3 linked regions of the Homo sapiens genome follow. Changing the gene in region 1 together with any one later gene gives a genetic interaction. Each region holds a gene or a part of one and is shown on either strand. Other genes may lie near its edges.

Region 1 (3,657 bases):
GAATCAGTTTCTTCATCTAAGTCAAGAACTTAGGAACAAAACACCGAGACTGTCATTATTCAAAGTGAAGAATGGACATTGTAACCTCCATCCCAATAAGAAGGTCAGCCCCCTAATAATGAATTCACTCTAACTATAAACAGACTGGGCGCAGTGATTCACGCCTGTAATCCCAGCACTTCGGGAGGCTGAGGTGGGTGGAACACTTGAGATCAGGAGTTCGAGACCAACCTGGCCAACATAGTGAAACCCCACCTCTACTAAAAATACAAAAAATTTAGCCAGGCATGGTGGTACGTTCCTGTAATTCCAGCTACCAGGAGGCTGAGGGAGGAGAATTGCTTGAACCCAGGAGGCAGCAGTTGCAATAAGCTGAGCTTGCACCACTGCACTCCAGCGTGGGTGACAGAGCAAGACTCTGTCTCTTAAAAAAAAAAAAAAAAACTACAAAGAGGCAGGTTCTTCTTCAACTAATTAAGCATGAGCAGCTTCTCATAGCTATATAACTTCTCTGAGTACACTGAGCGTATCCACACTCTTATTCTGTGGGTCTGGCGATCTGGGGTAAACACACTCAGGGTTAGAAATGCACTACAGTTAAATACAGAAAGAGGTATGGAAATATACATATATATATAATAATAGGGATACCTTTTGGCACCTCAGTGTCACTATCCGCTTCTGAATCAGATGCAATCGCATTCTTGCGTTTCATTCGTAAAACTTCATCTTCACTATCACTGCCTCTTGCAGATTCTATAAGGGTAGAATTAGAAGTTCTGCATAATCAGTCGCATTAGTTGAATTTTGTGTTTTAAAAGCAATATTGGAGATAAACAAATTGTGATACAATGGACTACTACTCAGCAATAAAGAGGAATGAACTGCTGATACATGTAACCAATTGGATGAATCAAAAATGCTATATGCCAAGTTAAAGAGGCCAATCTGAAAGACTACATACTTACTGTATAACTCTATTTATATGACATTTCCAAAAAACCAAAAGTTTAGTGACAGAAAAGACCAGTAGGTGCCAGGGTTTAGGGGTAGCAGAAAGATACGACTCAAAAGGGATAGCATAAGGGAGTTTTTCAGTGTGACAGCGATTCTGCATCCTGAGTGTGGTGGTGGTTAGACAAATCTATAGATATGTTAACATGAATAGAGCTGTACATGCAGAACATGCCCCCCCCCCAAAAAATTAACTCTAGTGTGTGTTAATTTAAAAAACAGAATTCTTAAAATAAATACTGGTGCCAGTTGTGGTGGCTCATGCCTGTAATCCCAGCACTTTGAGAGGACGAGGTGGGTGGATCACTTGAGGTCAGGAATTCAAGACCAGCCTGGCCAACATGGTGAAACCCATCTCTACTACAAATACAAAAATTAGCCGGGTGTGGTAGCGTGCACCTGTAGTCCCAGCTACTTAGGAGGCTGAGGCAAGAGAATCATTTGAACCTGGGAGACTGATGGTGCAGTGAGCCAAGATCGCACCACTGCACTCCAGCCTGGGTGACAGAGCGAGACTGTCTCAAATAAATAAATATACTGGCTTTGCAAGTACAAAAACTTGGTAGAAATGAGAAAAGTAGCACTAAAACTTATCAAATTTACATAAGACAAATTTCAGGGAAAAAAAGGTAAAAAGATTAAAAAGGAACTGACAAATATATCATTATTTCTAGAAGGGCCAATTATTTACGTAAAAATGTCACAAAAATCAACAGAACCACTGTTGAACTAGTAAGAGATAAGCAGAATGACCAGCTACAAGGTTCCCTACTATGACCCTGCCCTTGACTTGGTCTTCTAGTATTTGGGATGTAGTACATGAGCCTTAAAGATTCTTTCTGGTAACAGTAAAAACAGCCCTACTTTCGGCCAGGCATGGTGGCTCTTGCCTGTAATCCCAGCACTTTGGGAGGCCAAGGTGGGCAGATCACCTGAGATCAGGAGTTCGAGACCGGCCAGGCCAACATGGGGAAACTTCCTCTCTACTACAAATACAAAAATTAGCTGGGTTTGGTGGTGCACACCTTTAATCCCAGCTACTCAGGAAGCTGAGGCAGAAGAATTGCTTGAACCCAGGAGGTGGAGATTGCAGTGAGCCAAGATGGTGCCACTGCACTCCAGCCTGGATGACAGAGACTCTGTCTCAAAAAAAAAAAAAAAAAAAAAATGAGTGGCCGGGCGCAGTGGCTCACGCCTGTAATCCCAGCACTTTGGGAGGCCGAAGCAGGCGGATCACGAGGTCAGGAGATCGAGACCATCCTGGCTAACACGGTGAAACCCTGTCTCTACTAAAAATACAAAAAATTAGCCGGGCGTGGTGGCGGGTGCCTGTAGTCCCAGCTACTCGGGAGGCTGAGGCAGGAGAATGGCGTGAACCCAGGAGGCGGAGCTTGCAGTGAGCTGAGATCATGCCACTACACTCCAGCCTGGGAGACAGAGCGAGACTCCGTCTCAAAAAAAAAAAAAGGATGAGTTCATGTCCTTTGCAGGGACATGAGGGACATGGATGAAGCTGGAAACCATCATTCTCAGCAAACTATCACAAGGACAGAAAACCAAACACCGCATGTTCTCACTCATAGGTGGGAACTGAGTAATGAAAACAGTTGGACACAGGGCAGGGAACATCACACACCGGGGCCTGTCATGGGGTGAGGGGCAGGGGGAGGGATAGCATTAGGAGAAATGCCTAATGTAAATGACGAGTTGATGGGTGCAGCACACCAACATGGCACATGTATACCTATGTAACAAACCTGCACGTTGTGCACATGTACCCTAGAACTTAAAGTGTTAAAAAAAAAAAAAAAACCTCTACTCTGAATTAGTTATTGAAAACTTACTGCAGTCCCATAGTCTACACAGATCTATATTCATCTCTGGAAATATGCTGCCCTCCTCTTCTAATAACACCAAGATGTGGTTTCTGAATCCTGTCCTGTGAGGTGTGTGTTAGATGCCCTCATATTTAAGCTAAGAAGATAGGATCAAAATATAATTAATATAATCAATCACCTATGGAAATGAAGCAATCCAGGTATTTCAGGAAGACTTCAACTTAATTAAGGTAACTTTTATATAATACAAAGAAATATGATCTCTAATTTTTTGTACATTCTATATGAAGAATGTGTTAACTTGAGCAGAATAGTCTAAATGGCAATGATAAAAGCAGGTCCAGGAACCAAAGTTCAGGTGTATGCCTCCTGTAGTCTTTAGGGAATGAGTGCTGTAACCCAAGCTCGTCTCTGTAGGGTGAGGATACACCCATCAATCTGTCTTGGCTCAGTAACACTGTCCATTGAGATCACCCAGCCATGTTTGCACTTTCTACATATTATACTCCCTGGGCAACCTCCTGATTATTATAATTTGCCATCCACGCTAGATTTGCCCCCGGGGAAACATATGGGGTGATAAGGGAGAAATAACTGATCCTCTTGAAACAATTTTGCAATTCAATTTTATACATTAATATCTTGTAAATTTGACTAGTTTGAGTAAACTCCTTAGAGCTTGACCATCTCTGGATGATCAAATTTTGGATCTCAAAAAGCTGAGCTGCAGCAATGGTGCCCACATCTCAGTACAGCTGCTCTGTGGGGACACTTCAATGGTATGGTTTTTTTCCCCAGGCTAATC
Region 2 (3,657 bases), on another chromosome or scaffold:
GTAAAAAGATTCAAAAATTCTAATCTAGCATTAACATAGTATGTTCTTTTTTGCCACAACTATATTGGGTCATAATTAACAAAAATTATATATATTTAAGGTGTACAACATGTTTGATATACATATACACTCTGAAATGATGAACACAATCAAGCTAACATATCACCTCATATAGTTACCAATATTTTCTTTTGTGGTAAGAACATGTAAGATTGGTCAGGCACGGTGGCTCACACCTGTAATCCCAACACTTTGGGAGGCCGAGGCAGGAGGATCACCTGAGGTCAGGTGTTCAAGACCAATCTGGCCAATATGGTGAAACCCCGTCTCTACTAAAAATACAAAAATTAGCCAGGCGTGGTGGCAGGCACCTGTAGTCCCAGCAACTTGGGAGGCTGAGGTAGGAGAATCGCTTGAACCAGGGAGGCAGAGGTTGCAGTGAGCCGAGATCGCGCCACTGTACTCCAGCCTGTGTGACAGAGCGAGACTCCATCTCAAAAAAGAAAAAAAAAAAACATGATGTGAGATCTACTGGCTTAGCGAATTTTCAGCACACAATATAACATTAACTAGTCACCATGCTGTACATTACATCTCCAAAGGTATTCATCCTACATAAAATAACTAATTCTTACTATTATTTTTATACTTCATTTTTTAAATGATTTTAGAAGCAATCACTATTCAAAAAACTAAAAGTAAAAGTCACTTTTACTTTATTGAATCATCCAACTTGAGAAAAGAATGGAAAACATGAATGTTTCTTATATAACTACCTGCTCACTGATTCCTGTTCCTCCGTAAACACAGACCACTCTAAGTCCCAAAGTCTTGGAAAACTTCTTACACTCTTTAGTAATCTGTAAAGCCAGTTCTCGAGTTGGAGTCATGATGACAGCTGGAAAGATAAATACATCAGTAGCCTAACCACCAAAATTCTTAAGGCTGTGCTTTATAGTGTTCAATTTAACCTTTACAATAAAGTTCAGATTGTTTCACCTAATTTTTGTTTTGTTATGCATCCCTGAAAACTATTTCAAAAGTTGTATAACAGCAGAGGTTGTGGGGAAGGATAAATATAAGCAGATTTTTAAAAACATGCTAAAAGAAGATAAATGACAGTTAAATGCCTCATCCAACCCTCAGGAAAATACTTGGTTCAAAAGAATGCAAACAGTTTTCTAATGCAAATCACAGAACAAAGAAAATCAAGTGACTCACTGTGCCACAGAAGCCATACTGCTGCTTCCAGAAACAACCTTGGTCTGAGGGGCACAGACAGAGGAGAGATATACTATGCCCCGTGTTCCTAAGAGAGAAGCTGAACAACTTTCCAAAACCCTACTCAACTTTCCAAGAGTTATCTCTGCCAAGATGAATCAAGAAACCAGAATCTAAACAAGTAATCTTGAATGAAATGCTGGCATTATAGCCTGTTAAGGCCAAAAACTACCTAGGAAAATATGTTTCCCTAGGATATCTTCCATGTCGCTTTTATATATCCACTGATACTGGGCTAACAAACCTCAATATAAATAAACAGATAGATGCACGAGGAGTCTACCTGCCAAGTCAGAGTTTAAAAACTGAGCTGTGCCAGGAGAGGCTGTTTTTGTACTTCTGAGATGTCACTCCAGAGCTCTGAAGATTCTCACTCCACCTGCTGGTAAGGGGAAATCAGCCCCAAAGTGCCAAATTGATAAAGAAAATGTACATAAAGACAACTTCATTGTCATAATTAAGAACATTATAAACTATAAGGTCTTTCTGTTTGACAACAAAGCTGTTATTTGAAAAATAGTTTAATGAAAAGAATTGTACCTATTGGCCCCTCTCCTTCCTCTAATGACCTCTGATCCATGATGTGTCTAAACATGGGCAACAGAAAAGCAATGGTCTTTCCACTTCCTGTTTTGGCAATGCCAATCAAATCTCGTCCAGACATTATAGCAGGAATAGCTTGGGTTTGGATGGGCGTGGGCTTTTCATAGCCATGCCTTAAAAAGAAAACCAAAGGAAGAAAAGGTAAGAATTGAGATTGCTGGGCCCCAGACAGGTCCTATGTGTTCCCATAAAAATGAACTTCCAAAAGGTGGTATATATCATACAATAAAATACTATTTGGCAATAAAAAGGAATGAAGTACTAACACATTCTACAATATGGACTAATCTTTACAACATTATGTAAAGTGAAAAAGATCAGGCAGTAAAGACTATATATTGTTTGATCCCATTTACATGAAATGTTAGGAATAGCCAAATCTATTCTAGAGACAAAAAATAGATTAATGGTTGCCCAGGGGTGGGGAGAGGGGAGAAGACTGACTACTAATGGACAAAAGTTTCTTTTTGGGATAATGAAAAATTTAAAAATTAGGCAGGGCGCAGTGGTTCATGACTGAAATCCCAGCATTCTGGGAGGCTGAGATGGGAGAATCATTTGGGGCCAGGAGTTGGAGACCAGCCTGGTCAACATAGCGACACCCCATCTCTTAAAAAAAAAAAAAAAAAAGGCCGGCCTTGGTGGCTCACGCCTGTAATCCCAGTACTTTCAGAGGCCGCAGCGGGTGGATCATCTGAGGTAGAGAGTTCGAGACCACCCTCACCAACATGGAGAAACCCTGTCTCTACTAAAAATACAAAATTAGCCAGGCATGGTGGCACATGCCTGTAATCCCACCTACTTGGGAGGCTGAGGCAAAAGTATCACTTGAACCCAAGAGGCGGAGGTTGCAGTGAGCCAAGATCGAGCCACAGCACTCCAGCCTGGGCAACGAGAGTGAAACTCCGTCTCAAAAAAAAAAAAAAAAGGCCGGGCATGGAGGCTCACGCCTGTCATCCCAGCACTTTGGGAGGCTGAGGCGGGCGGATCACCTGAGGTCAGGAGTTCAACGCCAGCCTGACCAACATGGTGAAACCCTGTCTCTACTAAAAATAAAAATAACCAGCTATGGTGGCACACACCTATAGTTTCAGCTACTCGGAAGGCTGAGGCAGGAGAACTGCTTGAGCCCGGGAGGCCGAGGTCACAGTGAGCGCAGTGAGATTGCACCACTGCACTCCACCCTGGGCAACAGAGCAAGACTCTGTCTCAAAAAACAAAACAAAACAAAACAAAAAAAAACCAGTTGTATAATTTAAAGGGTAAATTTTGATATATAAATTATCTCAATGAAAGTTTTTTAAAACGTAAGGGTTTTTTTAGAGTAAAAATGTAACTCAGGGAGACACTGGTGTGGAAGGACTATTTTGAGCAGCAAGACACGGAAAACATAAACAACCACCAACCACTTACTTCTTGAGGGAATTTAAGATCTTCATGGAAATTCCACACTGGACCCAGGATTTAATTGGTTTGGGGCAACCTTTTCCTTTAACTGTAATGCCCTCCATTTCCAATCGAAACACATTTACCTCTACAAAACAAAACCCAGATTAAAAGTTCTTAAATATTGTTCTATTGGTGTCTTCTACTTTTCAATTAGGCATAAGATTAACAAACTTTAACTCTTATGCCAGACCCAGCGGCTCACACCTGTAATCCTAGCAACTAGCACTTTGGGAGACAGACGCAGGCAGATCACTTGAACCCAGGAGTTGAAGACCAACCTGGGCAACATGGTGAAACCCTGTCTCAACAAAAAGTACAAAAATT
Region 3 (3,250 bases), on another chromosome or scaffold:
TATTTGTGAAAAGATCAATACCAGATTGAATGACTACCTATTGGCAAAGGGCCCTAAAAAGCTTACTTTAGCACTCATCTTTTACATGGTTAAATGCATTTCCTAATTTGAGATCACCTAAACACTGGAAAAGAAAAAAAATGAAAGGGCAGTATGTCCATAAACCAACAAATAATTTGGCTGTAATGTATCATAAAACACAAACCCCACACATCTGTACAATAAACATTATGTATTACATACACACAACACACACCCAGTCATAAAGCCTAATGATGTGCTGCTTCCAGTTCAATATTCAGCTGTGCATTTTTTCTTATTTCATCAAATGAATAGCTTTTTGTCACCTTGCCATTCTTGAAGACAGTATGGAGAAGATCCTGCATAAATGGAAATTTCATGATTATATTACATTATTAAGCAAAATACCTGAATCCTGGTTTGATGAATTAGACTAACCAACCAGTCAAATACAGAGATGCCAATGGTGTTCAAATTGTGAGATGATTTGATGCATAAAAAATGCTAGTGGAACAAGGTACTATCTAAAATGGCCAATCACTGAGTTGCCTGGTATGTAGAAATATTTAACTTCTATGAAAAGGAATGACCTTAATACTACATTCTTAAACCAGTTTTCTTAAAGGAAAACCAAGAAACCTAGCTGACCAATCTTTTTTTTCCTCAGGCTGAAGGAAGATGCCTGGGTGCCTAGGGAGAACTGTAATCATTGTGAGTGTGCAGCAAAAAAGCCTGGTAAACCCTGCCTTGTTCCTGGCCAACAAACTCAACAGTGATTAAACTTATCAAATGGAAGTTTAAGAAATTTGCTAGTGCTAAATTTGGGTCTAGAAAACCCACAAAAAGCCAAAAGCCAATCCCAAAACAGAAACAAAGAAAAACAAGTATTGCATTCTTGACTAACACACAGTGACTGGGTTAAAGATTCTGTTTATACTCCAAAAGTCAATGACAAAGGTAATCCACTTCATCCATACAAGAGTAGCAAAGACAGATTGAAGAAATTAAATTCCCTTTGGGTCTGGTAGAGCCACTCCTGTCTCACTAAGGAGTTACCTGCTTCTGGTTTCTCTCTGAAAAATCCACAGAAGTAATCTCAATTTTCCACCTAGTCTGAAGATTGAGGTGCATATGACATTATCTAATATTTCTGTCATTGTGTTGCTTCAAACCACAGTGCTTTAGCTGTAGCATTTTCTTTCACAAATTTAAATTTAAGGGAATACTAGTTCCTACTCTTAAATCAAATTGCCTAGATGATTATGAATTATTTTCTAGTTTATTCTACTATCATTCACATACTCTTAAATCAGTGTCTTTTAAAAATCACACTTAGATTTTTACTTTTAGTTTGAAGTGACTTTAGCTCATCTAGGATAAACTAAATCTGCCAAAATCTTAGTAGGTACAAGAGTTACACAAAGCTTACTCAAATAATTGCCTAACAGGCTATATAAAGGGATCTAATTCTAAAAGTTTGATTTACAAACATATTTTTTCATTAACGGTAACAAAGTTATTTCAATTCTGGCTCAAAACCTTAATAAATGTAAAAGTAACATGTTATAAGCAGTAATTGTGATGTAGTATAAAGAATCAAAATAGGAAGTAATAGTGCACTCATGTTTAGTGTACTTTTTTCTAATAATATGAATATTCATGAATAGTTCTGTCTAAAGTTTTTTTTGATCAAGTGGCTTAAAAACCAAAAATTTTTTAACTTGAGTTCACAAATATAAATGTACTTTTGTATGCTAAAGACCATTAGATCATATGAACTACTTTAGTGTACTGTAAATTTTTCTAGTTTGGTTGATTTGAATCAGAAAACTTGGTTAAATCAAGGTTTCACCATTTATTATGTAATCCAAATCAAGTCACCTTGTTTTCACATTTTATATTAAAGTAACATAGTTTGCTTTTGGATAAAGTGTATACAAACTTGCTGTCAATCACTATACTTACGTAATATTTCTCCCTATGTATACACAGGCCCCGTGTTTATGACGTAGACACTTGTTTTGTATCTTATTTTGGTAGGCCAGGTCAGCAATTGGACATTTTATAATAAAATATAATACTTTGTCTTCCACAAAAACAATAACATAAAAACCTCCTTTCTTATTAATTTGGTGAGCCAACCTACTATTGCTTAAAAAAACCAATCAGCATAGATACATACCTGACCATATTCCTCAAGGTCTCCTTTTCCTTCCTCCAGTGTAACAAAATTCCCTGCTGGCGTCCTATGTAAAGATAATCGGCCCTTTTTGGACCTTTTGTTGGGATCAGCAACTGGGTCCTTGAAGACGTTAATCTGAAATCCAAATTAAGAAAGTTAGACAAGTAGAAGACTAATCATCAGAAATGTCTAAACACTCCCTTACAAAAAAGCACATACATAATTTACATTTAAGTTTTAAGCACTTAATAGGTATAACTGAACCAATCCACATCTGGCTTTCAGAAACATAACACTTTAGCCTGTTTTGAAGGATAGTCGTTTGTAATAAAGAAAAAGTATGACATCTTGGATATCCTTTTTGCCACTGAAGAACACCTAATACTCCATTTGTAGGAAGTCTGTGAGCATTCTAACATGTGACCCTTAAGGTATCTCTTTATATTACAAACTGCCTTTAAACTGACAGTAAGCACAGCATGTACATGCTGTTGAAGAAAAGCCCAACTATACCAACTACGCCAAAACCACACACACAATCTTTGGAGAGGGAACAAGAGTATTACTAAGGTAAAGGCTTTCCTATTTCATAACGTATCCCTCTTTTGGTACTTTTTACTTTTGCCTTGTTATTGTCAGAAGCAAAAGTCTTAGAGAACCTGAAGACAGCAGAGTGTTTCTACATCAGAAAGGTAGGCAGCAAAGAAACAGAAACAAGTGGCAGTGGAACAAGCAGCAACAAATGAGTCAATCCCAGAACTTTCCAAAGAAAGATCAAAGAGTGAAGCAGGGAATCAACTCAGGTGTTCTTAATTCTTAGCATCCTCCTGCCTCTGTCCCTTGCTCTATAGAATCTCCAGCTCTCAAGACGTTACAAAGAAGCAAGGGGGGTTGTTGTTCACTTGCCTAGCTGTTCTATGGCTACTAGAACATGACTGTGGTATAACAATCCAAACCTCATATTCTACCTTCCTGTAACAGTTTGGTCAGTGATTATATACTTGCTTGTCTTTAATATATGATGGCTAGGTAAGCTGACATTCCTAC

The links.
Region 2: changes in LEO1 (region 1) and DDX46 together harm fitness more than expected from each alone (negative genetic interaction), as found in Homo sapiens cells (one large-scale study listed by BioGRID).
Region 3: changes in LEO1 (region 1) and NAMPT together harm fitness more than expected from each alone (negative genetic interaction), as found in Homo sapiens cells (one large-scale study listed by BioGRID).

Annotation. Positions count from the first base shown.
Region 1 is NC_000015.10:51,961,738-51,965,394, forward strand, and holds part of LEO1 (RNA polymerase-associated protein LEO1), read right to left. Parts: intron 757-3,657; coding exon 652-756; intron 1-651. UniProt on the Homo sapiens protein: Component of the PAF1 complex (PAF1C) which has multiple functions during transcription by RNA polymerase II and is implicated in regulation of development and maintenance of embryonic stem cell pluripotency.
Region 2 is NC_000005.10:134,782,706-134,786,362, reverse strand, and holds part of DDX46 (probable ATP-dependent RNA helicase DDX46), read right to left. Parts: intron 3,419-3,657; coding exon 3,298-3,418; intron 1,998-3,297; coding exon 1,822-1,997; intron 899-1,821; coding exon 777-898; intron 1-776. UniProt on the Homo sapiens protein: Component of the 17S U2 SnRNP complex of the spliceosome, a large ribonucleoprotein complex that removes introns from transcribed pre-mRNAs.
Region 3 is NC_000007.14:106,250,814-106,254,063, forward strand, and holds part of NAMPT (nicotinamide phosphoribosyltransferase precursor), read right to left. Parts: intron 2,339-3,250; coding exon 2,204-2,338; intron 381-2,203; coding exon 270-380; 3' UTR 1-269.